Linked DNA regions of Homo sapiens: regions 1, 2, 3, 5 and 6 are each reported to be linked to region 4. Evidence: microRNA targets listed by miRTarBase, many of them from high-throughput screens and not tested one by one. Region 4 holds a microRNA gene; each other region holds the end of a gene's coding sequence. Distances are between the middles of the regions.
Evidence for each region. The annotated mature microRNA hsa-miR-192-5p reads CUGACCUAUGAAUUGACAGCC and lies in region 4 at 2,823-2,843, shown strand. An mRNA with a match to its seed (bases 2 to 7 or 8) in the 3' UTR can be bound and repressed. Matches are read on the target gene's strand: a 7mer-m8 pairs with bases 2 to 8, a 7mer-A1 pairs with bases 2 to 7 and ends in A, and an 8mer does both.

Region 1: miRTarBase lists STXBP4 as a target of hsa-miR-192-5p. Seed matches in the 3' UTR shown: 8mer at 1,472-1,479.
Region 2: miRTarBase lists AGL as a target of hsa-miR-192-5p. The part of its 3' UTR that is shown has no 7-base or 8-base seed match.
Region 3: miRTarBase lists EHBP1L1 as a target of hsa-miR-192-5p. The part of its 3' UTR that is shown has no 7-base or 8-base seed match.
Region 5: miRTarBase lists ANAPC10 as a target of hsa-miR-192-5p. Seed matches in the 3' UTR shown: 8mer at 790-797.
Region 6: miRTarBase lists TMTC4 as a target of hsa-miR-192-5p. The part of its 3' UTR that is shown has no 7-base or 8-base seed match.

Annotation. Positions count from the first base shown.
Region 1 is chr17:55,159,468-55,164,541 of GRCh38, reverse strand. It overlaps STXBP4 (syntaxin binding protein 4), which reads right to left. Exons shown (of 18, transcript NM_178509.6): 18 at 1-4,745. The coding sequence ends at 4,631. Among named protein-coding and RNA genes, the nearest start is that of HLF, 100 kb to the left of the region's middle.
Region 2 is chr1:99,920,780-99,925,853 of GRCh38, reverse strand. AGL (amylo-alpha-1,6-glucosidase and 4-alpha-glucanotransferase) reads right to left here. Exons shown (of 34, transcript NM_000642.3): 34 at 1,834-4,320. The coding sequence ends at 4,203. LOC124904230 (a long non-coding RNA gene) reads left to right here. Exons shown (of 7, transcript XR_007066251.1): 6 at 1,474-1,616. Among named protein-coding and RNA genes, the nearest start is that of SLC35A3, 47 kb to the left of the region's middle.
Region 3 is chr11:65,591,417-65,596,490 of GRCh38, forward strand. It overlaps EHBP1L1 (EH domain binding protein 1 like 1), which reads left to right. Exons shown (of 19, transcript NM_001099409.3): 17 at 384-457; 18 at 560-674; 19 at 787-1,234. The coding sequence ends at 886. KCNK7 (potassium two pore domain channel subfamily K member 7) reads right to left here and starts at 4,384. Exons shown (of 3, transcript NM_033347.2): 1 at 4,038-4,384; 2 at 2,060-2,458; 3 at 1,420-1,794. The coding sequence starts at 4,356. The coding sequence ends at 1,589.
Region 4 is chr11:64,888,972-64,894,045 of GRCh38, reverse strand. It overlaps MIR192 (microRNA 192), which reads left to right and starts at 2,800; the gene lies at 2,800-2,909. MIR194-2HG (MIR194-2 host gene) reads left to right here and starts at 597. Exons shown (of 3, transcript NR_133640.1): 1 at 597-635; 2 at 1,220-1,456; 3 at 4,706-5,074. It overlaps MIR194-2 (microRNA 194-2), which reads left to right and starts at 2,607; the gene lies at 2,607-2,691.
Region 5 is chr4:144,990,679-144,995,740 of GRCh38, reverse strand. It overlaps ANAPC10 (anaphase promoting complex subunit 10), which reads left to right. Exons shown (of 5, transcript NM_001256706.2): 5 at 138-1,165. The coding sequence ends at 368. Among named protein-coding and RNA genes, the nearest start is that of ANAPC10, 100 kb to the left of the region's middle.
Region 6 is chr13:100,600,734-100,605,807 of GRCh38, reverse strand. It overlaps TMTC4 (transmembrane O-mannosyltransferase targeting cadherins 4), which reads left to right. Exons shown (of 19, transcript NM_032813.5): 19 at 666-2,183. The coding sequence ends at 814. Among named protein-coding and RNA genes, the nearest start is that of GGACT, 14 kb to the right of the region's middle.

The DNA of each region.
Region 1 (5,074 bases), not on the chromosome of region 4:
GAAGCGGAGCTTGCAGTGAGCCGAGATTGCGCCGCTGCAGTCCGCAGTCCCGCCTGGGCGACAGAGCGAGACTCCGTCTCAAAAAAAAAAAAAAAAAAAAAAAGAAATAAACAGGGTAGAGTGATATAGAGAATAATTGGGTGATGGGGGAATGGAATGGGGGACAGAACTATTGATCTGATCGCCCTTTCCCTCAGAACAGTCCAACCCCCAAAAGTAAAAATTGAACTTTTGAAAAAAGTAGACAGAAACAGTATAAGTTTAAATGTTAAAAGTCATATCAAGAAAGCAAATACAGAATTGCAGTTAATATTTACAAAGTCATTATGCAGACACACTATTACATGTAGACAGTTGTAGTTAAAACACCTTGGGTATTTCATTTCTAAAGCGAAGCTCCACAGGCACATTCTGTTTAAGGTTCTTTTCATTCTCTCAAAAGTTATAAGCAATGGAGTGTGTAAGTTGTTTTAATAATAGTTCAGTTCTTTATGTACATTGTAAAAATGTCAAGCGTGTTGATTCTTCAAAAAGTTGCATTTCACTTAGCAGAGAAAATAAAAATGTCCCATTTCTCCCGAGAAAAAGGATAACATTTTCTAATTGTGCAAACACTTTATGAAAGTATCACTTGACTCTATATTTTGACAGCTGCTTTGCATTTATTATTGGAGAGGCTCTTCATACGGCATGTTCCTTTTTTTTCCTTTTCTAGTCAAGAGGTGTTAATATTATTTTGGAATTTTTCAAATTTAAGAGAGTGGTAAAGGGTTGCTCTTCAGGGGTTCTTAATAAACAACCCCCTAACTTCTTACCCCTTTAAGAGGTTGTTTAGGGGGAAAAAAAAGAAAGAAAAATGGTTTTAGACTATGAGCTCCTTGTTTTGAGAATCAGTACCATTTAGCCTCATAGCATGCAAATTTCACATTTTGCCTGGCATGTAGCAGGTGCTCAGGAAGTGTTTGCTGAGTTGAACTGGTTTGAGAAAAGGCAAGGGATTACTATCCTTATTATTCAGATAGGGAAAGTGAGGCCCAAAGAACTCGAAGATGCATTTGTATTGTGCTTGGTACTTTAGTGAACGTCTCACCCAAGTTAGCTCATTTGAAAGTTGGTCCTCGCAACCATTACATGTAAAGTAGGAAAAGAGAAGAGTAATGATGTGTTTGACATATAGTGAGTTAGTCACTACTTGACTTCCCTCTATACAGCAAGTCAGTCTCTGCTGCTAAAGGAAATCTAAAACCTAATGATTAAAAATCTCAGGTTCTTGGACTTGGTGGAAGGAAGGTTATTCTTCCAAGGACAAAAAAAAAAAAAAAACCCAGAAAATCTATAGGAACATTTGGACTAAAAAAAGTCCTATCATACATAAAAATAAGGCTCACATACACTATTGGTGGTAATGTAAGTTGGTCCTACTTTTATGGAGAATTTATGGATATGTACCAAAATTAAAATGAATGTAACTTTGACCTAGCTTTGATCAAGAAATTTATGAATGTATTCACACTATAGACATACTAGCACAAGAGTGCAAAGATACATGAGGAAAAGGATTTAATGAATATATAAATGTTCACTGTGACATTGTTAGCAATAAGAAAACTTAAAACATTTTAGTGTTCAATAAATTGCTGGCCACACAAATTATAGGTTATGTGGGTAGTGATATTTTATGTAGACATTTGAAATAAAAGATTAATCTATGTATTGACATGAAAAGATGACCACAACATAACATGTCAAAACCAAGCTGCTTAATAGTGTGATTTCCTTTGAGTAAAATCACTCACCACAGTATTAGTGACTGCTACCTCTGGAAAGTGAGACAGGCTATCTCTTACTTTATTCACTTCCAAAGTACTTGATTTTTTTTAAATAAAATAGATTAGTTTTAAAATTCAAAAATTAAGAAGCAGCTGTTTAGTCCTGGCCACACACAAACTCTTTTGTTGTTTTTTTTTTTTTAAATCAAGAGTAAGTGGAACCCAGGAAATGATTAGCAATTGTTCTACTTCACCACAGTGTTTAGCACAGTGCTTGTGACATTGTTGGTGCTCAATAAATATTTTGAGGGAATGAGTGAGTAAGGATGAGTCAACTTGGGCACTCTAGTAAAGTGAGACGGAAGGACATAAGAACATTCAGATTTTCTAACCCTAAAATCCAAGCCAGTGAGTCAATGAAGACTTCGTGATGACCACATTGCTACGGTTGATTGATGTTAAAGAAAGACTGGCTACTCGCCAAAACATAATATGAGGGTCGTATTTGCACTGGAAAAGGATTCTTGCTAAGCCCTGACCATGCTTTTTTGAGCATCTCTTATGGCACCGACCTGATGGTTTAGAAGTCACGGAAGCTTTATGAAGAGGGAATCTGAGAGAGTGGCCAACTGGTTCAGTCCATTCACACACTGAACCTCCTCAGCAACATTCCCCAAGTAAGGAATTCAGATTGCTGGGATAGTGTTTCCATTTTCTCCTGGGGAATTCTTTTCTTATCAGCTCTAATTACTAGAAAGTTCCTTATGACACTGAACTAGAATCTGCCTTTTTATAAAATGTACCCATAGACAATGAATCTAAGCAGTTCTCCATAGTGGTTTAGAGAACAGCTTCTGGAATCACAGATCTGCCTTGAACCCTAGCTTCTACACATAGGTGCTTTGTGACCCTTAGGCAAAGATTACTAACTCTCTAAAACTAAGTTTTTTCTTTTAGAATTGGGGATAATTACAGTTCCTATTTCATGGAATGGTTTTAAGAAGATCATAAATAAATATATGCAAACTGCTCATCACCATGTATGGCACAAAATGCCCAATAAATAATATCATTACAATTGTTTAGGCCTTTTTCACTAGGTATTTGACAGAAACAGGGCGGCAAGTGGTACAAAACAGCAGTTAATGGATGAGGTGTCTCTTGTCAGTGGGCTGTGTGCCTGAGTACTTTGATTTCAGTGACTCAAGCACCTTCTTTGTTTTGCTCACTAGAAACGAATTAGAAAACTCTTCAAGCAGGGGGAGAGAAATTTCATACCATTAATTTGACAAAAACAAGAAGTTTGTACTTTCACAATTATAGACACTAACTTATAGAATACCTCATTCACCTCTGGGGGGTGCAAGGAAATAGCTCCCTCTGGGGCTTCTCTCAAAACTTGTCTCCCCGAAGCTTCCTAACATTCAAATGGCTGTCAGGCAAAACACAAGTCTTCCCTAGCCATCCTGAAACATTTCTCATGGCTAATGACTACCTATCAGTCTGGAGTTGACTTTATATTATTACTCAAGACATAAATCACAAATCCTAAATGGATTCAGGAATGTATAGTTGAGCACAATGTATATGTATATCTTTACCATATAAATCTGTATTATACACCATATGAAATTCAGTAGACTAGGAGACTTAAGATCTCAGTTTACTCAACTATAAAATGGCTACAATGAATGGTTCTTAGACTATGTTCTAAGGACCTCTAGGTCTGCACAGCAGTGCTGGGAGCTGCTCGACTTGGGCTTTAGGCTTCCATCTTGTTTCGAGTAGAGCAGTAATGTTTTAACAGATACCTCTCTTCTCATCAGCTCCCCTCAAACCATCCCTCTGGGAAGGGCAACCTAAGCAGGACAAACCATGCCTTTCACTTTAGAAAAACACGAGCTGCTGAAAGAAGTCTGCTGAAACAATATCACAAAGAGTGCGCCTACTTGGCGAAGGCTTGGGTGCAGAGAAGGGGGAAGGGTTTATAGGAGAAGAATAGTGGGGTTATAGAGGGGCCATGTTTGACCGAAGAGGTGCCTTCTGAATCTCTGTGGAATGCACAGCTGTGGAGCCAGCTGCATCAACACAATCACAGTGTCCTGCGTGATGGGCTGTGACCTCCCTCCGTGGAGACAGCAGGGTATGGGGGAAGGGGGACTGCTCATGGAATCAGAAGACTTAGGAGTGAGTCTCGGTGCTGGGACAGAGAGCTTCCTCTCTCTGAACTGCTATTTCCCTACTGAAAACCAAGAATAAACATACCCACCAGATCAGCTTCACGGGCATGTTGTATGGTTTAAAGACAATGGGGTCTACAAAGCATTTTGTAAATTAGAAAGCTCCACAAAGATACCAGCTGTATTCATCAGCCCATGAGATGTCTAAATGTGATCCTTAAATTCCAAAAAGCTTGCTAAGTTCACTTTCCTAATATATGAATATAAAACATTAGTGAATTATCAAATAAATGAGGTGTTTCATTATGTTCATATACTTTTTCAATATGTCAATTATAAAAACCATTGTATCTGAGACCCTATGAAGAACTACATATGAAATTACAAAGAAAGATCTAATTATATATGAAAAAGTATATATATTATAAAGTCTAATTATATGTGATTTCAAAAAATATAACTAGATTATTCTTAAGGAACTACTGTAGTGGCAATTGATTTTTTAAATGTATACAGAAATATCAAAAGTTTTACAAAAATACCCAAAGTCCAGAGTCTCCATTTCACACTTCAACAAGTAGTGCATGCTTTACTCCTATTTTAGACTGTTTCATCTCAGAATTGGATGTTATGCGTCTCTGCTCACATCATCCATGTAGCTCCACTTCCTAAGGAAAACCATCAACTTTTCTGGTTGGGGAGTTCTCTAGAGCAATCCTCTTCATTCTCCTCTGAGCGAGATAGATTCAGGACACTCATCACGGGATGGATCCAGGATGTAGTCTGTGTTACATGACTTGAGAAGAACAAGAATGCAATTAGAATCTGAAAGACTGTCCTTCTACTCATCCATGCAAGTACTGATCCTGGTGACATTGCTTCTACCCTAGTAAAGTCCCTGTGATAGGAAGCAGTTAGAACTAGATCCAATAGCTTTAATAAGTCTTAGACACATTTTAAGCTTCAATGAAAACCATTTCTTTCTTTCTTCTTTGGTTAAAAAGGAATGCAGGTGAATGCAGCATCTCTAACTCCTTTCGTTTCAGTATCTGACATTCAGTAAGTCAGCAAGTCCAATGACTGCCTTGCTGTAACATCTCTGGAATCTGTTTCTTGCTCTCCTTT
Region 2 (5,074 bases), not on the chromosome of region 4:
TGTCAATATGTCTGTTGTTATCAAATTAATAGTATGAGGGCTTGTTTAGTAAAAATGCTGAGAATACTTTTTGGATTTGGAAAAATACATACAAAGAATAGGTGGGAATAAATAAGATTCTGAAAAAGAAGACGAGGGAACCGATGAGAGAAAAACGTGGTGACAAAATGCTCTAACAAATATTAAAACAAAAACTGTAATAGTGAAATAGGTGAATGGGCACAGAAAACAGTATATTCTAGAAGTAGACCCTACTAGTAAAGAATAATGCAAGATTAAAAAAGGACTTCCCATAAATCATATTCAACTTATAAGTTTGGGATTTAACAATTTGGAAAAAAAAGCCTAAGTAATGTCTCATCTCATACCACATGCACTTATAAAAAAAATAAAACTGGAAATAGAAACAATGGTTATTATTGAGACTGATGTAAATTTTGAGGAGACAGTAGAGATTACAAACGTGGAGGCAAGTGCTGAAAGATCTGATTAAAGAAAAAAGCTGGCCAGAAATGGTCACGCCTATATAATCAGCACTTTGGGAGGCTGAGGTGGGAGGATTGCTTGAGCCCATGAGGTTGAGACCAAGCCTAGACAACACAGTGTGGACCCCCATCTCTACAAAAAAAGAATTGCAAAAGTTAGGTGGGTGCAGTAGTTGTACGCCTGTCATCCTAGCTACTTGGGATGCTGAGGTGGGAGGGTAGTTTGAGCCCAGGAGGTTGAGACCAGCCTAGACAACACAGTGTGGACCCCCATCTCTACAAAAAAAGAAATGCAAAAGTTAGGTGGGTGCAGTAGTTGTACGCCTGTCATCCTAGCTACTTGGGATGCTGAGGTGGGAGGGTAGTTTGAGCCCAGGAGGTTGAGGCTGTAATGAGCTGTCTGTCATCAGGCTTGGGCAGCAAAGCAAGACTCTTTAAAAAAACAAAAACAAAACCCCTGCTCTAACCAAAATAACTACAGCCAGAATGACAAAGTATTAGCACTACTCTATAATTCAAGGCTCATACAAATTGGGGGGGTTGGGGGAGGGAACCAACAACTACTAAGCAAATTCCATGAGTTTATTATATTGGCACATTGAGGTTCTATGTAAGTAATTTTGGCAAGTTTGCTGTGGTAGTTACAGGTTTGGATTTTTAGGTTAATATCTTTTATCTGAAGATGAAGATATGCATATCTGCAGTAAAAAGAAACCAACAGAAACTAAGGCAAAGACCAAACTGATCAACTTTGGTCATTAGATGCTTTTCTATAAATATGTATATTATTCAGTAATACAATGAAAAGTAAAAAAATTTTGGCTACTTTAGGAGGCAACGTATATATGTCTTCTGGCCTGTAGTGTTTACTGTAAGTTGATCAAAGGTAAATTAAAAATTCACACTTGAGTAAAAGGTTTCAAGAAGTACCAGGAAAGTGTGCAGCTTATTTTTATTTATTTTAAAAAAATTATTTTTATTTTTCCAGGAGGCCCATTGTCACCAGAAGTGTATAGTTTCTAACAGATTTATACATTGGAAGTTGATTTTGCTCCTAATTTCAACATGCCTAATGAAATAAATAATCAAAACAGTCTAAAATTCTTCCTCCTCTCTGCCTCCTGCAAAAAGGTAAGCACCTAAAGTAGGCAAGCACTGAATAAATGACTCTGGTCAGCACTGACAAATTAATTGCCTCTAGGAGGCTGAGGCAGGAGGATCACTTGAGGCCAGGAGGCTGAGACCAACCTAGGGAACATAGTGTAGAATCCTGTCTCTACAAAATAAAAAATAAGTAAAAAATAAAAAATTAGCTGGGTGCAATGACTATGAATGAAAGCAAAATACAGACCTTTAGAAAATATTTTTATTTTCTTAACACACAGAGGTAACAATGACATTTGCCCACTAGACACAGTAGTTCAAGACATATCAGAAATGGATCACAATTCACATGTTACAATATTCATCAATATGACCAGTCTCATGTTTTCCCAATTATCTTTGAAAACTTATTAAAATACCACAGCATACTAAACTGGTAAATTCATTTATCATGTTAAAGAGTAATTTTGATTTTGATTAGTGAAAAACCAAGGCATAGTCCATTGTTGAAATACAATACCTTATCCAGCATCACTCAAGTATGAAGCATTCTACCGAAACGTTTAGTCAAATGACACCTGTTAAAAATCTAATTCTGTATTTTAACTACCATAGAGGAAATAATGTTTAACATGCCTTCTTAAACTTTAAAATATACCACGCAGAATATAACAATGTTCTTTCATTAATCTTCCTCATTAGAAATATGAACCACTTAGTTTTCTAGTGCAACACAATATCCTAAAAATTTACCAACGTGGGTATCTGCCTTACTAGAGATAACCCCAAATGGCTACATTAAAAAAATTGTGAACTTTTAATTTTTTTGGTCACATTTAACTGTCAGCGATTACTTCTTGCTTTGATTAAATATGCTGGTTTTCTGTTACCTTTCCTACCTCCCTGAATATCAAAGTTAGGGTACAGCAACAAAACTACATAAACCTTTGATAAACTAATGGTTCTCTCAAGGACAGTCATTCCTTTTACCCGCACAGTTTAGAGAAGGGTATATATTGAACAAGGAAGGAACTGAAGAAGAAAGGGAGATTTGGAAACCAATGTCCAATGTATTTATAGATAGTGGTCAGATTACTGTCACAACTGTCCTTAAATTTGTAGGATTTAATCTATTTTAGTTTTGGAAACCAGAAAACTAAGCTAGTTAAAACTATTTCTAAAGCAAGGTCAGCTTTGAAGAAGAGCAGGCAGATAATCTTAAAGTAAATTACACGAGCTTTCAAGCATGGGTATTTGACATCTGAAGCATTTATATATTTTTGCTGCCCAGAAGTTTTAGTTTGCTGGTTTTCTTCTTTAATTTCTTAGTCATAGTTAAGGTTTTGGGTATGTAACCTGTAAACTAACTAAAAAAATGCTACTTTGAAAGTAGCATTATTTTAAAATACCATTATTTTATTAGGTATAAATGAGCCACTGAATATTATATAGCAATGAAAGAATTCTTGCCACTACTTTCTTCCAACTGAATGCATAATGATTTAACTGTTTTCTTAAGAAAACAGTAAAAAACAGTAAAAAATTCTATCTAGGAAATAAGTTCTATGAAAAAATGTTAACTCATGTAAATGTTAAAAACCTTTTTCCTTTTGTGACTTTAAGATTTTTAAGGCATCTTAAAATAAGTTATCATGAAAAACTTCCAGTGATTTTATTGAATTTAAGATATCTACTGAATTCATATCCATATTTTTGTTAAGATTCTTCTCAATGTTAAACTTGTCAATGTAGGTTTTGAGTTAATAGAAAACCAGTATCTACTATGATCTAGCAATAGATTTTTGAACATGACTAAAGATAGTTGAGTTTTAGAAAACTAATATAACATTCTTTTTTCTTTAAAGTTCTAGAAATATGACCGACAATTTCCATTTTGAAAATGTAAGCTATCTTATAATACTCAATAGAACTCAATACTAATTTTACAAAACTGTTTTTAGGAAATAAATTTCCTAATGCTTTGCATGTTTCCTCACATAAGTAAATCATATAAAATATACTGTTGGCATTCATTACACAAAAATTAATATATCAGTGAAAAAATGAAAGCATAGTTTGAACATCTGTGCTCCATTTAGGAACATATATTGTAGATGGAAACTTCTATCATTCATCATTTATTAAATATTTATTAAATGCAGTGAGCACTGTATTAAGAATACTATAGTACGTGGTGTTAATATTAATGAACCACAGCGTATTCAGTATGTATTGTTACTGAAGATTATATATACCACAATTAAAAGCTATCTTTTCATTTCTTTCATTATTTTCATATTTTATTTTCATTTCTGTACAAATAGAAGATGACATGATTTTTCTTTTCCAAACTATGGATTTCTAGGCATTTGAATAATTCTTACTGAACTCAAACACATTTCATTGGTAATGATATTTCTTTCTGATTCAAATTGAAATCTACCTCTGTACATTAAAAAAAATCAATGCTTTTACAATCTTACCTAATTGAGCATCAATATTATAATAAATGAGATTTTTAAAACAACTTGAGCCTGTGCATATAAGGCATTTACATATGATGACCTTGCATCCTATAATACAAGTAATTGCATACTTAATATCTGTAATAAACTATAAATCATAAAGTGTCTCAAGAATAGTAGCAATTGACCAGGCTTGTGTTTCACAGCTGAAAGGACAGTACTGGGCATTCTCATTGGTCAGTTCTGGAAGTCCTTTCCAAGGGGATCTGAATGAAAGAAAAGACATTTTACAAAGACATAATTTAATTCATATTAACAAAATAGGCAAGACCTGGTGATTTTTGCCTTCTAGTGTAGAAAATAATCATATGTAGTCATTTGCTACAAAATAAAACAATATCCTAAAGACATACAAATGAATTTAGACTGAAATTATTCTTTGACATTCCATCTTTGGAATTTGAGACTTTTAAATACAAGGAATCCCTTTATGTATTAAAAACATAGAAGAAACTACCATTACAAGCTACATATAAACATAGAGATAAATACTCTCTCAGGCATAATTTTGTTTATGAGACTCAAATTGTAATTATGCAGATGTGTTATGTGTGATCTTGATAAAACTGTAAAAGTAAAAGTAATGAAGAAACACTAAGAACTATGATTAGGCGGAAAAATGGCATTCCAGAATACTTTCTACTTAAAGAAAAAAATGCCAATTAATTTCTCTTTCTACTGAATAATAAACTTGGTATTTATTATGCATTTATGTTCTAATACTGCTTTTATGTATATTATCTCATTTAATGTTCACAGTAACCCTGTAAGGAAGGTACCATAAGTATTCCTATCTATAGAGAGGTAAGAGAGATTTATAGAGGTTAAATAACTTGTTCCAGCCCTCCTTATCAGAACACAGTGATGTTAGCACATCAAATTTATTGTTAATTTCAATGTAATCCCTTAAAAATGAAAACAAATTCAAAAAGTACAGACATCTGTAATGTTTCATTTTTA
Region 3 (5,074 bases), 700 kb from region 4:
TCCGAAGCCACTCTGCGGCCATTGCCTTTGTCATCCTGCAGGGTGGAGACAGCTTTGCCTCCCTTTTGCGTTTGGGATTTTTCAGAATAACTGTAGCCAGTGCTTCCTGTTTATGAGTACTGTTCATCCAAATAATCCTTCGGGGGTCCTTCTGGGGGGTGTGTGGGAGGAGCAACACAAACACCCAGCAATTGGAGAAAACAGAAGAAAAGCGATAATGTGGTCTGGAGACTAGAGGATAGCTCTGCGGTCAGCCCTGCCCTCGGGAACTGCTGGGGAGGTGGGATGGGGTCAGGGAGTGGCCAGAGCCCTGGGCACTCTCTCCCTACGCCCCTTTTCCTGAACTGCCACCCCCCCGCCACCCACCCCCCGCCACCTTCCAGCATGGAGGAGCAGGACTTGGAGCGAAGGTTCGAGCTGCTGAGCCGCGAGCTGCGGGCCATGCTGGCCATCGAAGGTGGGACATGGGCTCAGGGGCCGGGAGGCAAGACAGAGCCAGGGTGGAGGCGGCACAGCCCTGGGCCCGCGCCTCCTGACGCTTAGCCGCTTCGACCCTCAGACTGGCAGAAAACGTCCGCTCAGCAGCACCGAGAGCAGCTCCTACTGGAGGAGCTGGTGTCGCTGGTGAACCAGCGCGATGAGCTAGTCCGGGACCTGGACCACAAGGAGCGGATGTGAGTGGCGCTGGGCGGCGCTGGGAGTTGGGAGGGTCCGGGACTTGCTCCCGCAGAGGGCTGCGTGTGGACCCCGCCCAACGGAGCGCTGACTCGAACCCGTTCTCCCCAGCGCCCTGGAGGAGGACGAGCGCCTGGAGCGCGGCCTGGAACAGCGGCGCCGCAAGCTGAGCCGGCAGTTGAGCCGGCGGGAGCGCTGCGTGCTGAGCTGAGGCCGCCGGCCCGGGTGGCCCATAACTTCTCGCGTCCCCGGCGTCCGCCGCCGCCCCGGGCCTGCGCTGCGGACGACCCGGCCGTCCCGGAGGCCGCGCGCGTGTCCGCTAGGGGCCGCCGGCGCCCTTCCCCGTACAGGGCAGGGCGGATCCCCGACCCCACGGGCGGGGCGGCCGCCGTATTTATTTGTCACCGAGGGTGTGTGCGCGCTCGCGGCGGGTGCGGGGTCCTCCCCGACGGCACGGCCGGGCCGGCGGCCTCGGGGAGAGGGATGCCTGGGCACTACCGCCCCGCGCTGGCTTGCCCTCCTGTTCTCCAGAGCAATAAAGTTGGACGAGACTACCCCAGCGCCGGCCTTTTCTCCGCTCCACCTGGGCTCTCAATAGGCGGAGGGGAGTGCGCCGAGGCTGAGGCGGGCGGCTCTGCCATCCTAAGCCGGAAGGTGCGGTTTCGAGGTTCCCAGGGCCAGCGGAGGCTGGACCTCGGCCTTCCCGGGATGGTGGCCGGTGGCTCAGGGAAGTCCCATTCGAAATAGTTGAAAATAGCCGAAGTCGTTGCTCATTTTATGATTAACAGTATCCTCTGAGGCCTCCCGCCCACCCTCACCGCGGCTCCATCTCCAGATTCTTCCCCAGCCACTCCTGGCTGCTTCCTCCTCAGGTGCCGCCACCTTACGGAGCTGAACTCGGTCACCTGACGCTTCAGCAAGCAGGGGCTTGTCCTGAAGCTGGGGCCGCGGGCGGCAGGGTGCTCAGAGCCAGTTCATCCTGCCCTAGGATGCCACCTTGGTCCTCAGCAGTCACAGGACCACTGGGTCTGAAGAACTTCCCCATGGCACGGACCTGCGGCAGCTCAGAGAAGGTCTCCACTGCCAGCAGCATGGCCAAGAGTCCTAGAAGCAAGTAACCTGGGGAGGAGAAGGTGCTGGGGCAGCGCCTGGGTTCTGGTGATGCTCCCCGCCCACCTCCCAGCGCAGTGACTTGCCCTGGCAACTGGCACCACTCACCCCCTTCTCAACGCTGCCACCAGAGCTCTTCGACTACCCCTCCCACGCCGTGCCCTGGAGTGAGGTCCCTCCACCTGCAAGGCCCAGCCCCCCAGTGATTTATGGGAGTCCTAGTCCAGGCTCCTCTTCCCCCTTCCCCCACACGCTGTTAGGTGGCTGGACTTACCAAGAAGTGCGAGCTGGCCCAGGTGGTAAATCACGGGGTGCAGGCTGCGGCCGCGGCCGGGCAGCAAGTCCTCCAGGCCAATGGTGCTGAGCGAGCTGAAGCAGAAGTAGACGGCCCCCAGCAGGCTGCAGTCGCCCTGAAGGCCCCACAGCACCAGCGCTGGCAGCAGCACAAAGCTGCTGGCCACCAGCAGTCCCAGTGCAACTGCCTGCAGCAGCGCAGCCCTGGCCGGTGACAGCTGCCAGTGGACCGCTACCCAGGCACGTGGGCGGCTGAGCACAGGCAGCAGGCAATGGCGCAGGGTGGCCACGAGAGCTAAGGAGGCTGGCAGCCCCAGGGCTGCATAGACCATGCAGAAGGCCTTTCCGCCTGGCGATAGTGGGGCCATGTGGCCATAACCTGGAGAAGAGAGAGTCAGTGGACAGTGAGAGCTCTGAGTGCCATGTCTGCTGGGGTCCCTGCCTACCCCAATACTGCCTTCCGCAGAAGGCTGCCCTCTGGTGGCCTTGAACTGGCCAGGCCCAGGTTCTAGCTGGCTCTGCTCCTCTTCGTCAGGGGATCCCTTACCCTCTCTAGGCCATTCTTTTCTTTTTTGGAAAATGAAAGGATGAAAGAAGACAGTTCCTCAGGCCTTTTGTAGCTGGGACAATTCTGAGAACTGCGCTGCCCTTAACAGATACTCCCGATTCCACAGCTGGTGGAATATCATCCACTCTTTCCCCAAATGTGTGTCATGTCCTGTGTGCCAGGCTTTGTACTGGGATCTGAATCAGCCCAGGCCCTGCCCCTTCTGGTGGGGGAGTCGGGCAGGCAAATCATGAAGGGCTGCAAAGAGGCAGCATGGGCGAGAGAGGGCATGTGCCAGGCGGGGAGGGGTGGGAGTGCGGGGTGTGCTGGGAGAACAGGATCAGCTAATACAGAGCTGCAAACGCACATGCCTACCGGAGCCAGATGGGAGACAAACAGGAGTGGTGGGGACAGGGGTACACTGGAAAGTGTGAGCTGTATCCAAAGGGCAGGCCCCATTCTGCTCCAGTCAGGATGTTGCCTTGCAGGGATTCTGGCTCAGTGTGAGTGGGTTTCCTGATTTTCCAAAAGAAGTTGGAAATATGAGCTGGGCACAGTGGCTCACACCTGTAATCCCAACACTTTGGGAGGCTGAGGCAGGTGGATCACTTGAGGTCAGGAGTTTGAGAACAGCCTGGCCAACATGGCAAAACCCCGTCTCTACTAAAAACACAAAAATTAGCCGGGCATGGTGGTGCATGCCTGTAGTCCCAGCTACTCAGGAGGCTGAGGCAGGAGAATTGCTAGAACCCGGGAGGTGGAGGTTGCAGTGAGCCAAGATCGCACCACCGCACCCCAGCCTGGGTGACAGGGTCAGACACCGTTTCAAAAAAAAAAAAAGTTGGAAATACAAATTCCAATTCAAAAAATACTGAGACACTTTGTGGGGCAAAAAATACGAAAACCCAGGGCTGTGGGTCTCATTGCTGCTTTTCCCTGGGCCTGTGCCCACGCGATTTCTCTGCAGGACTCCCTCATCCCTGTCTGTGCCCTCCTGATCCACAAGCATCTCATGCCGACTTCCTCCCCTATCTTCCCTCACTCCCCCACCCGAGGCCATGGTCCTGATCTGTCCTTCCCAGGTTCATTCTATTTGCTTCCATCCAAGAATCCATCCCACTGTATTGTATCCCCTATCTGGCCACAGGCTGTGGCATCTGGGCAGCTCTCCTGGGTCTCAAAGGGTGCCTGGGGTGGGACTGGGGAGGCCACACCCTTCCTGGCAGTTGAAGTGGAGGCACCAGTTGGGGTGTGTTGGTGGGGAGCCCCAGCTGTGATGTCAGGCCTCACAGGGCCTGGGCTCCATCTGGCTCTTTGGGGCTGAAGGAAGGGCTGCATGAACCCCAAAGCCCCCAGGGAGCCATGGCCTCTTGGAGCCGCACCCCCCGACTTGGCTGCCTGGCTCTCTTACCTGTGGTGGTGAGGATGCTGGCAGCGAAGAGCAGGGCTGAGGGAAGGTCCCAGGTCCTGCCCTCTGAGCTGTTGCCCAGGGTGGAGACCCCATGGGCCTGGGTGGCCAGGGCAGTGCCCAGCAGCTCTTCCAGAGCTCCGGGTGGCAGGCAGGCCCTATGCTCTGCCTGGAAGGCTGCCAGCTCTGCCCTGAGCTCAGCCTGAAGCCTGCATGCAGGAGGCCCCTCCAGGGCCTGGAACACCACAGCCCCAAGCCCCAGGGCCAGCAAGTGGGCCACAACCAGGAGCCCGTATCGGGACCAGGGCCTTAGACCCCCCATGGCAGGCCGCTGGGGTGCTGTGGGAACTGGCGGCTCCACCTCAGGCACCTGGGAGGGGCTGGGCAGGGCGGGGCCAGGAGGAGGTGCTGTGTGGGTGGCTGGGACCCGGCTGGGATGGCTGGGGTGGCTGGGGTGTGAACAGGAGGGAGGTGAGCTGCATCACCCTTCCCAGGTCCTGGAGGCAAGACATTTGCCCATTTCACAGCAGCTGGGATGGTGGGGATGGGTGGAGGAAGGCGGCTGCGGTGAGGGGAGGAGGCGGAGGAAGCTGAAGCCTAGAGAGGACCTCACACTTATTCAAGGTCCTGCTCACTCAGGCACCCATACCACATTCATTCATTCATTCATTCATTCAAGTGCTTAGGGAAGAGGACAGGCACAGGTCCTTTCCTTCCTGGTGTTTACACAAGAAACCTCTTAGCAAAGAAACATGGCAACCTCACATTGTCATGAGTTCCATGAAGGAAACACCCTGGGTGATGGGAGAGCTCTGCGGGGAGCGGGGGGGTTATCTCACTGGGAAAGCTCTGCTAAGGAGGTGATATTTCAGCTGGGGAGTAAGAGGCCAGTGAAGGTAGGAATGAGCTTGGGGTGTGAGAGGAACAGAGGGCTGGCTGTGGCAGGGGAGAGTTGGGGGTGAAGGGGGGATAAGGACACAGGCCCTTGAGGATAAATGTGGTCCAGGGAGACCTACGCTGGGCTACTGTAGGCGTCATGG
Region 4 (5,074 bases):
CCAACCCTCACTGCACAAAGCTTTACACAGGACCAGGGAGCGCCCATTGCCCCCCACACATCTTGTTTCTTGTGAGCTGCTCCCATCGCGCTCCTCCCTGCCCTGCTTCCCAGTGGCGCTGCACAGAGGTGGGTGGGTCCATGGGGAAACCAAGGCTCGGGTTGGGAATCAGGGAACCCTCACCTTGCTAGGTTCCGCAGGCCTCTGGGGTTAGCAAAGGTCCCCCAGCCCTGCTCTGTGGCCCCTTCTGAGTGGGGGAGATCTGGGTACTGGGAACAGAGCAGAAGCTTTGTCCCGAGGGACCCTGGGGTCCTGGCTGCCCACGGACAGCTGGGGCAGCAGGCTGGTAAGAGACCAGGAGGGCGAGGCCCTGGAGGAGACAGGGCTGTGGAGACTCGGTGCTGATGCCACCCGGAGAGGCAGATGGGGCCCAGCCTGATGCTTCCTGGACCCGCCCCACCCTGCCCGGGCACAGTCCAGGGCTTCCTGCCCTTCGAACCGCACTTGTGATCAGTATTGACGGTGGTGGGATAATCATTAACCACCACCAGGGGCTGGGTCAACGGCTCAAAAGGCCCTGGGCCCAGGGTGTCCCCACTTCCTCCTTGTGCCCCGAAGGCCAGCCCGGCACTCAGGTAAGAGGCTTCCTGAGTGGTAGGACCCCTGCCGCCCTCCCTGTCCTAGGAGGCTCCTGAACCCAGGCACCTCTCTGAAGGGTGGCCAATCCTGAGGAAGAAAGGGACCTGGACAGCCATGGGGTGGCCGGGACGAGCCCCTTCCTCTCTGTGCCTTGGTTTCCACTGTGGGATAAGGGGGCCTTAGCATCAGCGCTCAGAGCTGTGGAGCCAGGATTCCTGATCGGGCGCTGTCTCTGCCAGGCCAGGGCACTTGGACACCACGCTGCAGGAGGCTGGTCTCGCCCAGGCCTCTGTGGGAAGGGCCGCCAGGCTGAGTGGAGGGCCAGCCACCAGCTACGGTGTCTTCCTTCGCAGGTCTGTCCCCCCAGGCAGAAGGATTCCAGCCCAGGGATCCCCCATCCCACCCTGACTGCATCCTGAGAAGGGGGGACGCCACTTCGGGAAGGTTGTTGGGGCAGCACAGGCCCTGGGGCCCTGCTCTGTGACCTTGGGCGGCCCCCTCTGTCTCTCTAGGCCTGTATGCACCACTGGCAAAGGGGGCAGGGCCCAAGTCTACTCTAAAAGCTCCCCTTTCTCTCCAGAAGCTTTGGAGTCTCCCAAAATGCCTGCTGGGTCTCTGCAGGACTGGCACCTGTCACCGGAACCTGTCTGGGAGGGACGAGAACACGCTTTGCAAGAGGAAGCTCTGCCTCACAGAGCCCTGGGCTCACTCAGGGACCCTGGCCAGCAGCTGCTTCCTCTCCCCACAGCGGAGAGAGACCCAAGGGTCCCAGGGCGGATGCTTCCCACCAGGCCAGCCCAGCGTGCAGGGTGGCCTCGTAAGTCCTGATTGACATATGGACAGTGGTTCAGAGAGGTTACGCTACTTGCTCAAGGTCACCCAGCTCCCAGGCCCCTGCTGTCTTCCAGGCCACTGAGGTCCTAAGCGTCCTTCCAGGCGAGCCACTGCTCACAGCCTGTTCCTCATGTTCTGCGGCAGGTTTGTGTATCTACATCTTTTCCAGTTCCCTGTCGTCCCCCTTCCTACACCTCGTCATCCACTATCCCTGTTTGTTTTCTCTGTTCCTTTCTAGTTCTCTACCTGCTCCTCTTATTTTTATTTGAGACAGGGTCTTTCTTTGTCACTGAGGCTGGAGTGCAGTGGCACAATCCCAGCTCACTGGAGCCTCGACCTCCCAGGCTCAAGTGATCCCCCGCCTCAGCCTCTTGAGTAGCTGGGACCACAGGCATGCATCACCACACCAGGCTAATTTTTTATTTTTTGTAGAGATGGGGTCTCACTGTGTTGCCCAGGCTGGTCTTGCACTCCTGGGCTCAAGAGATCCTCCCACCTTGGTCTCCCAAAGTGCTGGGATGCCAGGTGTGCACCGCCATCCTCGGCCTTACTCTTCTCTTCCTCTCTCAGCCCCTCTGCCTCACTATCCCTCTTTCTGTGCCCTCCCCCACACAGCCCCCCACACTTCTTCTTAGTCTCATCTTCAGCTTCCCATACGAGGCCATCCTCATGAAATCAGGCACTGGGAGGTCCCTGGGGACTGACAAGTGCCAGCTGTCCCTTGCTGTCTCTCTGCCCCATGGCTGCAGCAGGGAGGGTGGGCAAAGGGCAGAGGTGACAGTGGCCAAACCTGAAACTGAGGCCCAGCTCTGGTTGGGAAAGAAACAAGGAAACAAAATAACTTGGGGACAGAGGGCGTGGGGTCATCAGAGCGGGCAAAGGCTGCCCAGGAGTTGTAAATCCGAGCCGCTCCCGGCTTTATGAGGCCGATTTGGGGTTGAGCCTGGACTTTGCCCAGGAAGGAGTGCTGGCAGCACACGGGGCGCCAGGTGTGGGCCCCGGATGATAAGAAGCCTCGGTGAAAAGACCATGGACCTGGGGCCACGAAGACTGGGGAGCCCAGGTGAGTGGGCATGGGACACTCTCCAGAGCCCTGCCGAAGGCGGACGCCAGGCAGGGCCCCGGTCTCCAATTGGTTCCCGCCCCCTGTAACAGCAACTCCATGTGGAAGTGCCCACTGGTTCCAGTGGGGCTGCTGTTATCTGGGGCGAGGGCCAGTACCCACGAAGAAGGAGAGGCAGGTGCTGGCCAGCAGACCAGCCAGGACTACCGTGGCGACGCTCCCAGGCCAGATGGTGGCGGGTAGTGGAGGGCTGTCGGTGGGCTGCCGAGACCGAGTGCACAGGGCTCTGACCTATGAATTGACAGCCAGTGCTCTCGTCTCCCCTCTGGCTGCCAATTCCATAGGTCACAGGTATGTTCGCCTCAATGCCAGCCACCAGGACCTGCAGGGATAGGGGAGGGCCGGGGGTGTCCAGCAGTCAGCAGAGATCCTGCGACCCCAGTGCAGCACTCATGGTCCCACCTCCCTCTGTCTCATTCCCCGTGAATGAGCCTGAACAGCTTCAGTCCTGCCCCTGCCCTGCCTGCCCTGTGGCACCTCTATGCTTTGCCCATGCTGTTCCCTTGGGCTGCAATACTCTTCCTAGCTTATTTGCCAGGCTCACTCTTACTAACCCTTTCAAGCTCTGTCCAAGCATTTGCTGCCTCCAGAAGGCCTTATTGAAGCTTCTAAGTCCCCACCTGGGCACCCCCACACAGTGCTGCCGCAGAGCACTGCCCTCTCGGAGCCCCGGTGCTGGTTTCTGCTTATGTCTCGCTCCTCTCCCCATCTGTGAGCTCAGTTCCCAGCCCAGGCGCGTGCCCAATAAATGTTTGCTGAACCAATCCTGAGCCTCTGTCTTGCACCCTGAGGAAGCACCCACCGACATGCAGTGTGGCCAAGGGGGGCTGAGTGCTCTAGGCCCAGTGTTTGTGCTGGAGCCCCCCCACCCAGGATGGGGCCCTGAGCCAGCCTCCCCATCTGCTTCCTACTCTCCCCTCCTTTGCCAGTCTCATCTCCCTGGAGCACAGCCCTGTGGTTGGTGGAGCAGCTTCTCCAGCCCCTAGGATTCCTAAGAGGGCCCAGGACCCCAGCTGCTGGTAGAGGAAGAGCAGCCAACCCAGGACAGGACAGCTGACCCCACCCCTGTCCCGCCTCCCACAACAGCCTCATTTCCACCTATTTCTTTGTGGTGTTTGTTTGTTTGTTTTGAGACAGAGTCTTGCTCTGTTGCCCAGGCTGGAATGCAACAGGCTTCCTCCCAGGAGGAAGCCTCCCCTCCTGGCATGATCTCAGCTCACTGCAACCTCTGCCTCCTGGGTTCAAGCGATTCTCCTGCCTCAGCCTCCCAAATAGCTGAGATTACAGGCATGCACCACCATGCCCAGCTAATTTTTGTGTTTTTAGTAGAGACTGGGTTTCACCATGTTGGCCAGGCTGGTCTCGAACTCCTGACCTCAGATAATCTGCCCACCTCGGCCTCCCAGAGTGCCGGGATTATAGGTGTGAGCCACCGCGCCCAGCCCCACCTGTTTCTTATACAACGGGGTTCTGAGGAAATTTTCCTTTTTTTTTTTTTTTTTTTTTGAGACAGGGTCTTGCTCGCTTTGTCACCCAGGCTGGAGCGCAGTGGTACAATCACAGCTTGCTGCAGCCTCCACCTGCCAGGGCTCACACAGTCCTCCCATCTCAGCCTCCCAAATAGCTGTGACTACAGGCACGTGCCACCATGCCTGGTTAATTTTTGTATTTTTCGTAGAGATGGGGTTTCACCATGTTGCCCAGGCTGGTCTCAAATTCCTGGCCTCAAGCAGTCCTGCCTCAGCCCCCCAAACTGCTGGGATTACAGGCATGAGCCACTGTGCCCTGTCAGAATTTTTCATTTGAATAAAAAGGTTTCTGGTACTACAAAATAAAATTTGTAAAATGGGAAATAGAGACCTAGGAATAAATGTCAAATTGCTTAATAACAGGCGTTGGCTATTGAGCCCTTTCTGTCTGCTGGGCACGCACATCCAGGACCTGGTCCTCCTGGCATCCATCATGAACCTGTTTGGGACAGGAGGACACAGGCTCAGAGAGGGTGCACATTTGCTGAAGTCACAGAGCAAGTTGGACCTTCTCCTGGGGACTGTAGGCAGCCAACAAACATCTGGCCCCTAAGACACTGTCTCTCTCCCCTTCCCACAGGCAGCTCTGCTCACACTGTCCTGGCTGCTCTGAATCCCTGGGCCCCGATTGGCCCCTGCCGTGGCCCAGCTCAGCAACCCCTCCCTGCAGACCATCCCATGACTCTGCAGGCGCTGCTCCCCTCTCTGCCCACACCCCGGCTTCGTGGGCCTCTCCCGCCACCCTTATCTCATTCCCTACAGAGTTAAGGAGCCCTGTGTGCTTATCTAATCCTGTGCTAGTTTCAGACTCCTTGAGGGCAAGGTCCATGACTTACTCATCCTCCCTGGCTGCTTCCCCCACCCACCAGCATAGTAGGTGTTCAGGATACATGGGCTGGATGGTAGGGCCCTGGACTCTAACCCTCTTGGGGCTGTCAGGCCTCAGACT
Region 5 (5,062 bases), not on the chromosome of region 4:
GTAGTGATTATTATCATATTGTCATTCTTTCGTTGAGCAAAATGTTAATTATAAGTTATTTTATTATAGAATGCATTCATTGTTATAAATTATATTTGTTGAATAAAAGCATAATCTGATTTTTTTTCCCTTGGCAGCAACTTGAGTTGGTGGAACCAAGTGGCTGGATTCATGTTCCCTTAACTGACAATCATAAGAAGCCAACTCGTACATTCATGATACAGATTGCTGTTCTAGCCAATCACCAGAATGGAAGAGACACCCATATGAGACAAATTAAAATATACACACCAGTAGAAGAGAGCTCCATTGGTAAATTTCCTAGATGTACAACTATAGATTTCATGATGTATCGTTCAATAAGGTGACTTTAAAATGAGACGAAAATCATTAAACGTATCTTTGTTTTATCCTGTATTTAAATAATATATCATGTACCTTTATTGAACAAGGCATCCGTTATATCTAATTTTGTATATGTTTAAAAATATTTTATTGTAACTTTGACAAATAAATTTGGGGTCATATTATCTTTATTTTCTTTAACATGTAATAAAGCTCACATATTTTACATTACTAAAAATGGATTTGAAGCCAATCATTTTATTTTCCCTTGTATCAAAAGAAAAGAGTTCCTTGTATCAAAAGAAAAGAGTTGAACTGAAAATTTCAGTATATACACAATTATAATAGCTAGGTGATTATTTCATTAGTGTTCATACATTAGAGTAATGGTTTATTGCATATTTGAGAACAAGACTGTGTTTTATCAATATATATCATCTTTAATAGGTCAAAATTACTATTTTTTCTACCCAGAGGAAGGTTATTCTTTTAATACTGGATCTTTTAAAAAACAGTGTCAAATAAGCTTAGTGTTAGGTTGTCTGATGAGAACCAATCTAATATGGGGAGTATAATTAATTGTCTCATATTCACCTTCACGGAATACTTACAGCCCTAGGGTTGTCTGTATCCTAATGATATTATGTAAAGATTGCCTGTATAATCTAGCAGTACTTATGGAAGAGTTCTAGCAGTACTTATGGAAGAGTTATTTTCAAATTTGTGTCTGACATTGTAGCATTCCCTGGGCAGTCATATATCCCATAAAATCGTAAAAGTATGTGAAATTTTTTATATATATTAAAAGATTTTAAAGAAATACATGGAAATGTGGTTTTTTCCATGGTTTAAAATGAGTAGATTTGATTTTGTATGCTGTTTTCTCTAGATGTATTACTTTTTTTCGGGGGATGGTTATTTAGCCACAGAATTTACCTAGATTCACTCTTGTTTGGAAAAGATTGCTCTCTGTGGTTCATGCATTGCTGGGTACACTAAAGTATTAAATAGTGAATATTATTTAAAAAATAGTGTGTTTGCTTTATTCTGGCAGAGAGTACTAATTTATTTGGATACTATAGAAAATGGTTTCACTTTTTCACTCATTAAAAACTCTGCTCTTCTTCCTGTAAGTTCTGGGAAGAATTGTATTATTACTTTCATTTTGTTGTCTTTGAAGTAAAAAGCATGATAGGCAATCTGTGGGATCACCAAAAAGTCTGTAGCCAAAACTTATTTGGAATCACCAAATTAAGCACATTATACTTGTCAGATGCTGGGTAGGGTAGAAGAGAGGATTGAAGGAGAAGACCAAGAATAAGGACTAAAGGAAATGGAGAGAATGAAGGAAATAAGAATAGAAATATACACTAGGCACTGATGTTTTCCTTTAGTCTGATAAGGAAAACAGTCAAGTAAACAACAGGGTCTTAGTCTTAGAGATAAAAGAAATCTAATTTTTTTAAAAGTACAGGAAGTTTTATTAATAATGTTACTTCTTACTGACTGCTTATTTATTAAGTTTGCTTAAAAGAAAAAAGGAGGAAGACTAATGATCACATATACTATCTAGTGTCTTATCTCCTACTATTTATTAATAGTTTGCCAAGAGACTCCTAAAATCAGGAGGTATTAGAAGGAGTTGAGAAAATCAATATGTTTTCTACTTTTATTCTCCTTACGTATTTTTCATATGCCAGCTGGCTATCTTATTAGGTGTGGGAAAACTTGGTAGCTGAGGATTATGAAGATAATGCTTCCCCTTAATAAGAAAAATTTAAAATACAGATAATGCATTATATTAACAAAGCATAATTATCTAAAACAGTTGCATTTTACTTTCTAAAGTGCAAATTATATATTTGACCAAGATTTATATTTAGAATATATAAAAATCCCTTACAACTCAACAGTAAGGAGAAAAATCCAATTTAAAAATGAGCAAAATATTTGAACAGTCACTTTACCAAGGAAGTTATATGATTGGCAAGTAATTGTACAAAAAGATGCTCAACTTCATTAGACACTAGTGAAGAGCAAATTAAAACCACAATGAGATACTACTACACAGCCACTAGAATGACTACAGTGAAAATGATTATTCCACGTGTTGACAACAATGTGGAGAAAATGCACTTCGCACTGCTGGTACAGGCATATCTCAGAGATGCTGCAGGTTCAATTCCAGACCACCACACAATGAAGTGAATACCACAGTAAAGTGACTATCACAATAAAGTGGGTCACAGAAACGTTTTGGTTTCCCAGTGCTTATAAAATTGTTTACACTGTTGTAGTCTAAAAAAAAACAATGTATGTATACCTTTATTTTAAAATACTATTGCTAAGTGCTAACAATAATCTGAAGCTTTAGCCAAGTTGTAACCTCTATGCAGGTGGAGAGTCTCATCTAGGTGTTGATGGCTGCTGACTTATCAGGGTGGTGGTTGTTGAATGCTGACAGGGCTGTGGCAATTTCTTAAAATAGGACAGCAATGAACTTTGCTTCATTGATAGACTTTTCACAAAAGATTTCTCTGTAGCATGTGATGCAGTTTGATAGCATTTTACTCACAATAGAACTTCTTTCAAAATTGGAGTCAATCCTCTCAAGTCCTGCTATTGCTTTATCAACTAAGTTGATATACTCTTCTAAGTCCTTTGTTGTCATTTCAACAATGTGCACAGTATCTTCACCAGGAATAGGTTCCATTTCAAAAAACCAATTTTATTCCTCATCCACGAGAAGCAGCTCTACAGTCATCCAAGTTTTATAAGATTGCAGCCATTCAGACACATTTTTAGGCTCCATTTCTAATTCTTGTTCTCTTGCTATTTCTACCACATGTGCCATTACTTTTTCCACTGAAGTCGTAAACCCCTCAATGTCATCCATGAAGGTTGAAATCAATTCCTTCCAAACTCCTGTTAAAGTTGCTATTTTGACCTTCTCCCTTAAATCATGAATGTTCTTACGGCATCTAGAGTGGTAAATCCTTTCCAGAAAGTTCTCCGTTTGTTTTGCTGAGATCCATCAGAAGAATCACTTACCTGCTAATGCCTTATGAAATGTATTTCTGAAACAATAAGACTTGAAAGTCAGAATGACTGCTTGGTTCATGGGCTACAGAATGGATGTTGTGTTAGCAGGCATGAAAACAACATAACTCTCCATCAGAGCTCTTGAGTGACCAGGTATATTGGCAATGATAAGTAATATTTTGAAAGAATCTTTTTTCCAAGCAGTGGATCTCAACAGAGGGCTTAAATCATGCAGTAAATTATGCTCTAAACAGTGGTACTGTCATCCAGGCTTTGTTGTTCCACAGGCAGAGCACAGGCAGAGTAGGTTTAGCATAATTCTTCAGGGCCCTAGGATTTTCAGAATGGTAAATAAGCATTGGCTTCAACTTAAAGTCACCAGCTGCATTAGCTGCTAACAAGAGTTATTCTCTTCCTTGAAACTTTGAAGCCAGGCATTGACTTTCCTCTAGCTATGAAAATCCAAGGTGGCATCATCTTCCAATAGAAGGTTGTTCATCTACATGGAAAAATCTATTGTTTAGTGTAGCCACCTTCATCCCTTATGTTCTAGATTGGGGTGTTCAATCTTTTGGCTTTCCTGGGTCACATTGGAAGAACAATAATTGTCTTGGACCTCGCATAGAATACACTAACGATAGCTGATGAGCTAAAAAAAAAAAAAAAAAAAAAATTCCTGGCCGGGCATGGTAGCTCACTCCTCTAATCCCAGCACTTTGGGATGCCGAGGCGGGTGGATCACAAGGTCAGGAGATCGAGACCATCCTGCTAACATGGTGAAACCCCATCTCTACTAAAAACATAAAAAATTAGCCGGGCGTGGTGGCGGGTGCCTGTAGTCCCAGCTACTTGGGAGGCTGAGGCAGGAGAATGGTGTGAACGCAGGAGACGGAGCTTGCAGTGAGCCGAGATCGCGACACTGCACTCCAACCTGGGTGACAGAATGAGACTCGTCTCAAAAAAAAAAAAATGCAAAAAAACTCTTTGTGTTTTAAGAAAGTTTACAAATTTTTATTGAGCTGCATTCAAAGCCATCCTGGGCCATATGCAGCCTGTGGCCTGCGAATTGGACAAGCTTGTTCTAGATCTTCTGGATAACTTGCTGCAGCTTCTCCACCAGCACTTCCTGCTTCACCTTGCTCTTAGCAAATCTTTACCATTAGGTTGATGCCTCCTTTTTGTCTCTGTGGTTCCTTAAGCCCAGGTTCTCCTCTGCTCTACTAAATTATTAGAGTGCTGCCTGTCTTGAATGGGGGAATTCCCAAAAGGATTATTCTGGCAGTGTGGGAAGGCAGGTAGTGGTTTGTGCCCAAGGGACCTGTGGAACATAACAGCATGGTGCTGCTGAACAGCCACTCTGATGTGGCATCTCCTTTGGCTGAGTTACAGAGCAGAGTTTCCAGGGCTGGGGATGGTAGTCCTACCTCCCTAGTTTGTCTCTGCTTGTCCTCACAGATATTTATACCTTCAGGCAGTCATGATGCTTCCTGTGTGTTAAGGCAGGTACAGGTCTCTTGCAAGGGAATCCAAGATGATGGGAAAGCTGATTGACTACTGATATGGTTTGGATGTTTTTTACCTCCAAATTTCATGTTGAAACATAATCCCCAGTGTTGGAGGTGGAGCCTGGTGGGAGGTATTTGGATCATGGGGGCGGATTCCTCAGGAATGGCTT
Region 6 (5,074 bases), not on the chromosome of region 4:
AGAAATGTTTTTTCACCAAAGCTGTTCTCTACCAACTCTGAAGCTTCTCTTCACAAAAGCCAAAAAGCGTCCACAGATGCTCTTCTGCCCATATAGAAAGTTAATTTTACTAACAAAATCACTGTCATGATCAGAGGCTAATCATCCTAATGATTAGGTTTACTGTAACTATCATTTTAGGGTCAGCTCTTGATATCAGAGGCCTTTTTTCTAAATGGACCCAAACAAGCTATTACTTCCCCAAATGGTGTAAGGAAATATTTAAAATAAACAGCTGAACTTCTGCATAGTCAGGGCTCTGGGCAGTGCCTAGCATCCATCACCCCCACCTCCCATACCCAGCCTTGCTTCCTGGAAATTTCATGGCAGCACTAAGACATTGCATGTACTCTTCTTTTTGCTTCTTTATGTAATAATGTTACTATAGGCAGATGTATCTTATCTAGTGCTATGAAGAGCCCTAGGAGTAACTGGCAGTAAATGGATAATCATCAGGGAGTGTGATTACAATAAATAGAGTTTTCAGTACAAACAATATTGTTTCATACAATTGACTTTTGAAAACTGTTTGCATAGGATCTGTAATATTTCTTTGTCCAAGAGGGTAGGAATACGGCACGTTACTCAGAAGCATTCCCAGTGAAATTTATCTCCTGCTATTTCAGCTGTGCTTTATCATCGTTGGGGACATCTAGACTTGGCCAAGAAACACTATGAAATCTCCTTGCAGCTTGACCCCACGGCATCAGGAACTAAGGAGAATTACGGTCTGCTGAGAAGAAAGCTAGAACTAATGCAAAAGAAAGCTGTCTGATCCTGTTTCCTTCATGTTTTGAGTTTGAGTGTGTGTGTGCATGAGGCATATCATTAATAGTATGTGGTTACATTTAACCATTTAAAAGTCTTAGACATGTTATTTTACTGATTTTTTTCTATGAAAACAAAGACATGCAAAAAGATTATAGCACCAGCAATATACTCTTGAATGCGTGATATGATTTTTCATTGAAATTGTATTTTTTCAGACAACTCAAATGTAATTCTAAAATTCCAAAAATGTCTTTTTTAATTAAACAGAAAAAGAGAAAAAATTATCTTGAGCAACTTTTAGTAGAATTGAGCTTACATTTGGGATCTGAGCCTTGTCGTGTATGGACTAGCACTATTAAACTTCAATTATGACCAAGAAAGGATACACTGGCCCCTACAATTTGTATAAATATTGAACATGTCTATATATTAGCATTTTTATTTAATGACAAAGCAAATTAAGTTTTTTTATCTCTTTTTTTTAAAACAACATACTGTGAACTTTGTAAGGAAATATTTATTTGTATTTTTATGTTTTGAATAGGGCAAATAATCGAATGAGGAATGGAAGTTTTAACATAGTATATCTATATGCTTTTCCCCATAGGAAGAAATTGACTCTTGCAGTTTTTGGATGCTCTGACTTGTGCAATTTCAATACACAGGAGATTATGTAATGTAATATTTTACATAAGCGGTTACTATCAATTGAAAGTTCAAGCCATGCTTTAGGCAAGAGCAGGCAGCCTCACATCTTTATTTTTGTTACATCCAAGGTGAAGAGGGCAACACATCTGTGTAAGCTGCTTTTTAGTGTGTTTATCTGAAGGCCGTTTTCCATTTTGCTTAATGTAACTACAGACATTATCCAGAAAATGCAAAATTTTCTATCAAATGGAGCCACATTCGGGGAATTCGTGGTATTTTTAAGAATTGAGTTGTTCCTGCTGTTTTTTATTTGATCCAAACAATGTTTTGTTTTGTTCTTCTCTGTATGCTGTTGACCTAATGATTTATGCAATCTCTGTAATTTCTTATGCAGTAAAATTACTACACAAACTAGCATGAAAATGTCATATTGCCTTCTTAATCAATTATTTTCAAGTAGTGAACTTTGTATCCTCCTTTACCTTAAAATGAAATCAAACTGACCAAATCATCATTTATGTGGCTTCTGTGTGACTTGGGGACCATTTCATAGAATGGCACTACAGTGTTTTCCAAGTTCAGAGAACAGAGCGAGTAGATCCACACTGAGAGGAATGTGATTCTCTGGACTCACGTGTTGGGGGCAGGTCTGTGTAGTGTTTCAGTCAGTGATTGTAACTTCTGGTGTTTGAAATGTATCAAGAAATAAAGTGCTGTGTTTAAAATATTTCTTTTTTTTTTTTTGAGATGGAGTCTTGCTCTGTCTCCCAGGCTGGAGTGCAGTGGCACCATCTCAGCTCACTGCAACCTCCGCCTCCCAGGTTCAAGCGATCCTCCTGCCTCAGCCTCCCGAGTAGCTGGGATTACAGGCGTGCACCAACATGCCCGGCTAATTTTTGTATTTTTAGTAGAGACGGGGTTTCACCACGTTGGTCAGGCTGGTCTCGAACTCCTGACCTCAAGTGATTCACCCACTTCGTCTTCCCAAAGTGCTGGGATTACAGGTATAAGCCACCATAACCAGCCTTCAAATATTTCTTAAATGGTCCCAAAACAACAGTAGTAATTTATAGCTCTCTTTAGTGGCTAAGACCATCTTCCTCTTATTTATGTTCCTATAGTGCTTCACTTGTCATACAATAGATGCATTATATGCTTTGTTGATTTTTTTTTTAAAGCAAACTTCTTTTTTTGAAACAGTACTTGTCTATTGAGAGTAATCACAAAATGATGTTTCTTACAAAAGCCCCTTCAGGATCCTTCTTTTTTCCTACCGATTCTAAAACTAGTGCCAAATCAAGTTGTGCAAATCTGGACCCCTGCCTACCGACAAATTCCCTCAGCCTTCACTGCTTCAGCTTCCAGCATTTCCATCGTAGCTGTTTTCTTTCCAGGGAACACAGTGATTAATTTGATTGATATTTCAGGAAGTCTTTGATCTGTGCAGATTTTGGAAGCATAACACACTGGCTCCCTTTTCTTCTTTTTCCATCTTAAGGCAGCCACCCTCTTTGTTTCTTCGGTTTCCTTTCAAACAAGACTGAAGTGGAAGGCCGCCTCGCAGTTCTTCTCTTATTTGGAGTCTTTTACTATTTTAATGTTTTTATTGCTAATGACAGTTGGGAGGCAGGTGTCAAAACAAACATGGGGAAGTCACAAGTTGGAGAAATCTCATCATCTCTTCCTTGATAGCGAACATCAACAAATCTGGAAAGAGGCTTGGAGCTGGGTGTTGGTTTGTTGGGTGGTTTAACATATGTAGCACATGTGAAAATGCAGCACTTCTTCCCTGTTCTTGTTTGGATTTTTACAAATTTAAATGCAGGCTTAACATTTGTTTCTCTCCGAGTTCATCCTGTCAGATGTAGCCTACAGGCCTTGACAGGACCCCTTGAGGTTCTCATTCTGTCACATTGCTTACAGATGTTCTTTCTCCTTTTTTTTTTCTTTTTCTTTTTCTTTTTTTTTTTTTTTTTTGAGACAGGGTCTCACTCTGTCATCCAGGCTGGAGAGCAGTGGTGTGATCTTGGCTCACTGCAACCTCTGCCTCCCGGGTTCAAGTGATTCTCCCACCTCGGCCTGCTGAGTAGCTGGGACTACAGGCACGCACCACCATGCCTGGATAATTTTTATATTTTTTGTAGAGACAGGGTTTTGCCACATTGCCCAGGCTGGTCTTGAACTCCTGGGCTCAACTGACCCACCTGCCCTGGTCTCACAGTGCTGGGATTACAGGCGTGAGCCACTGTGCCAGGCCATTCTTCACATTTTATTTCAAATTATTGACAAAATATCGGAACAGAAGACTGAGCCCTCCACCAAAGCACTGGACATCTATGTCCATATTCACACCCAACCAGCCTGGACTTTGGGGTGAGAAAACCCAGACTTGGACCTGGGGCTCTCCCACTGCAGTATGATACGTAAGGCATTGAGCATTGCTCAGGCGCCAGTTTCCCATCTGTACGGTGGTGATAAGAAGATCCCTCATAGCCATAACGTAGGGAGCCCAGTAGACCCTCCATAGGTGATAGCTTGGACTTTTGAAAGAGGGGCTCTGTTGGGAGTACACAGATCCGGCCTTAGATACCTTTATTCCCCATTCACTCAACACATACTAAGTGCTATGTACCAGATACTTTCTTAGGCTGTCTGAATACTAAGGTGGGTGGAAGAGGACACGGTCTCTTGCCCTCAGCAGTGGACAGTCCAGTGAGAGAAAACAAATGATCAAAGAGTCACATGAATAGTAGCTGAGGAGGGAGGCCTGCTCTAACCTGGAGAGTCAAGAAAGTGCTCCCTGGGAAGGTGGCTTCCGGATGGAGATTGACAGGCAGAGGGGAGGAAGATCACTCCAGGCTGGCTGTTCTCAACCAGGGGAGATGTCACCCTTGGGGGCGGGGGGCATTTGGCAAGGCCTGGGGATATTTTTGATTGTTAAAACTGATTGGAAAGTGACAGGGGAGAGAGAGGCTGCTGCTGTACATGCAATATTCACAGGACAACCCCCTACAAAAATCAACTGGCCTAAAACATCAGTAGTCCCAAGGTTGAGAAAACGTGGACCACACAGAAGCAACAGCATCTGCAAAGGCCCTGCTGCGGGAAAGCTGAAGTCTGAGGAGGCCGGGGAGGGTGCTTGAGAAGGCTGGCCTTGGTGATAAGCCAGCTCATACAGGGTTCACAGACCACGTGGTGCTTACTTAAACTGGGGGAGAATCCAAAGCAGGTCAGTGACATGATCCAAGTTAGTGAGGTTTTGACAAGGTCACTTGGCTGCTGGTGAGAAGAGAATTGGAGAGAGGCTAAGGATATAAGCAGAGAAGCCAAGAGACCATCCCAGGTGTCAGCGTCGAAATGAAGGTGGCTCTATGCAGCCAGGTGGCAGTGGGGCTGGAGAAATGTGGACAGTTTAGAGTAATGATAAGGAGTCAATCAACTAGTCATGGGCAGGAGGTGGGTGGTGTGGGAATGAGAGGCACTAAATAAAATTCGGCGCAGAAGCCACTGAGGGAGAAGCTGGCCTTAAACTGGAGAGAGAAGGTTCTTGAGAAGAAACAAGATAGGGCCCCAAATCAGGTAGAGTTTGGCCCTACAAAAGAGGAAATAAGGCTCC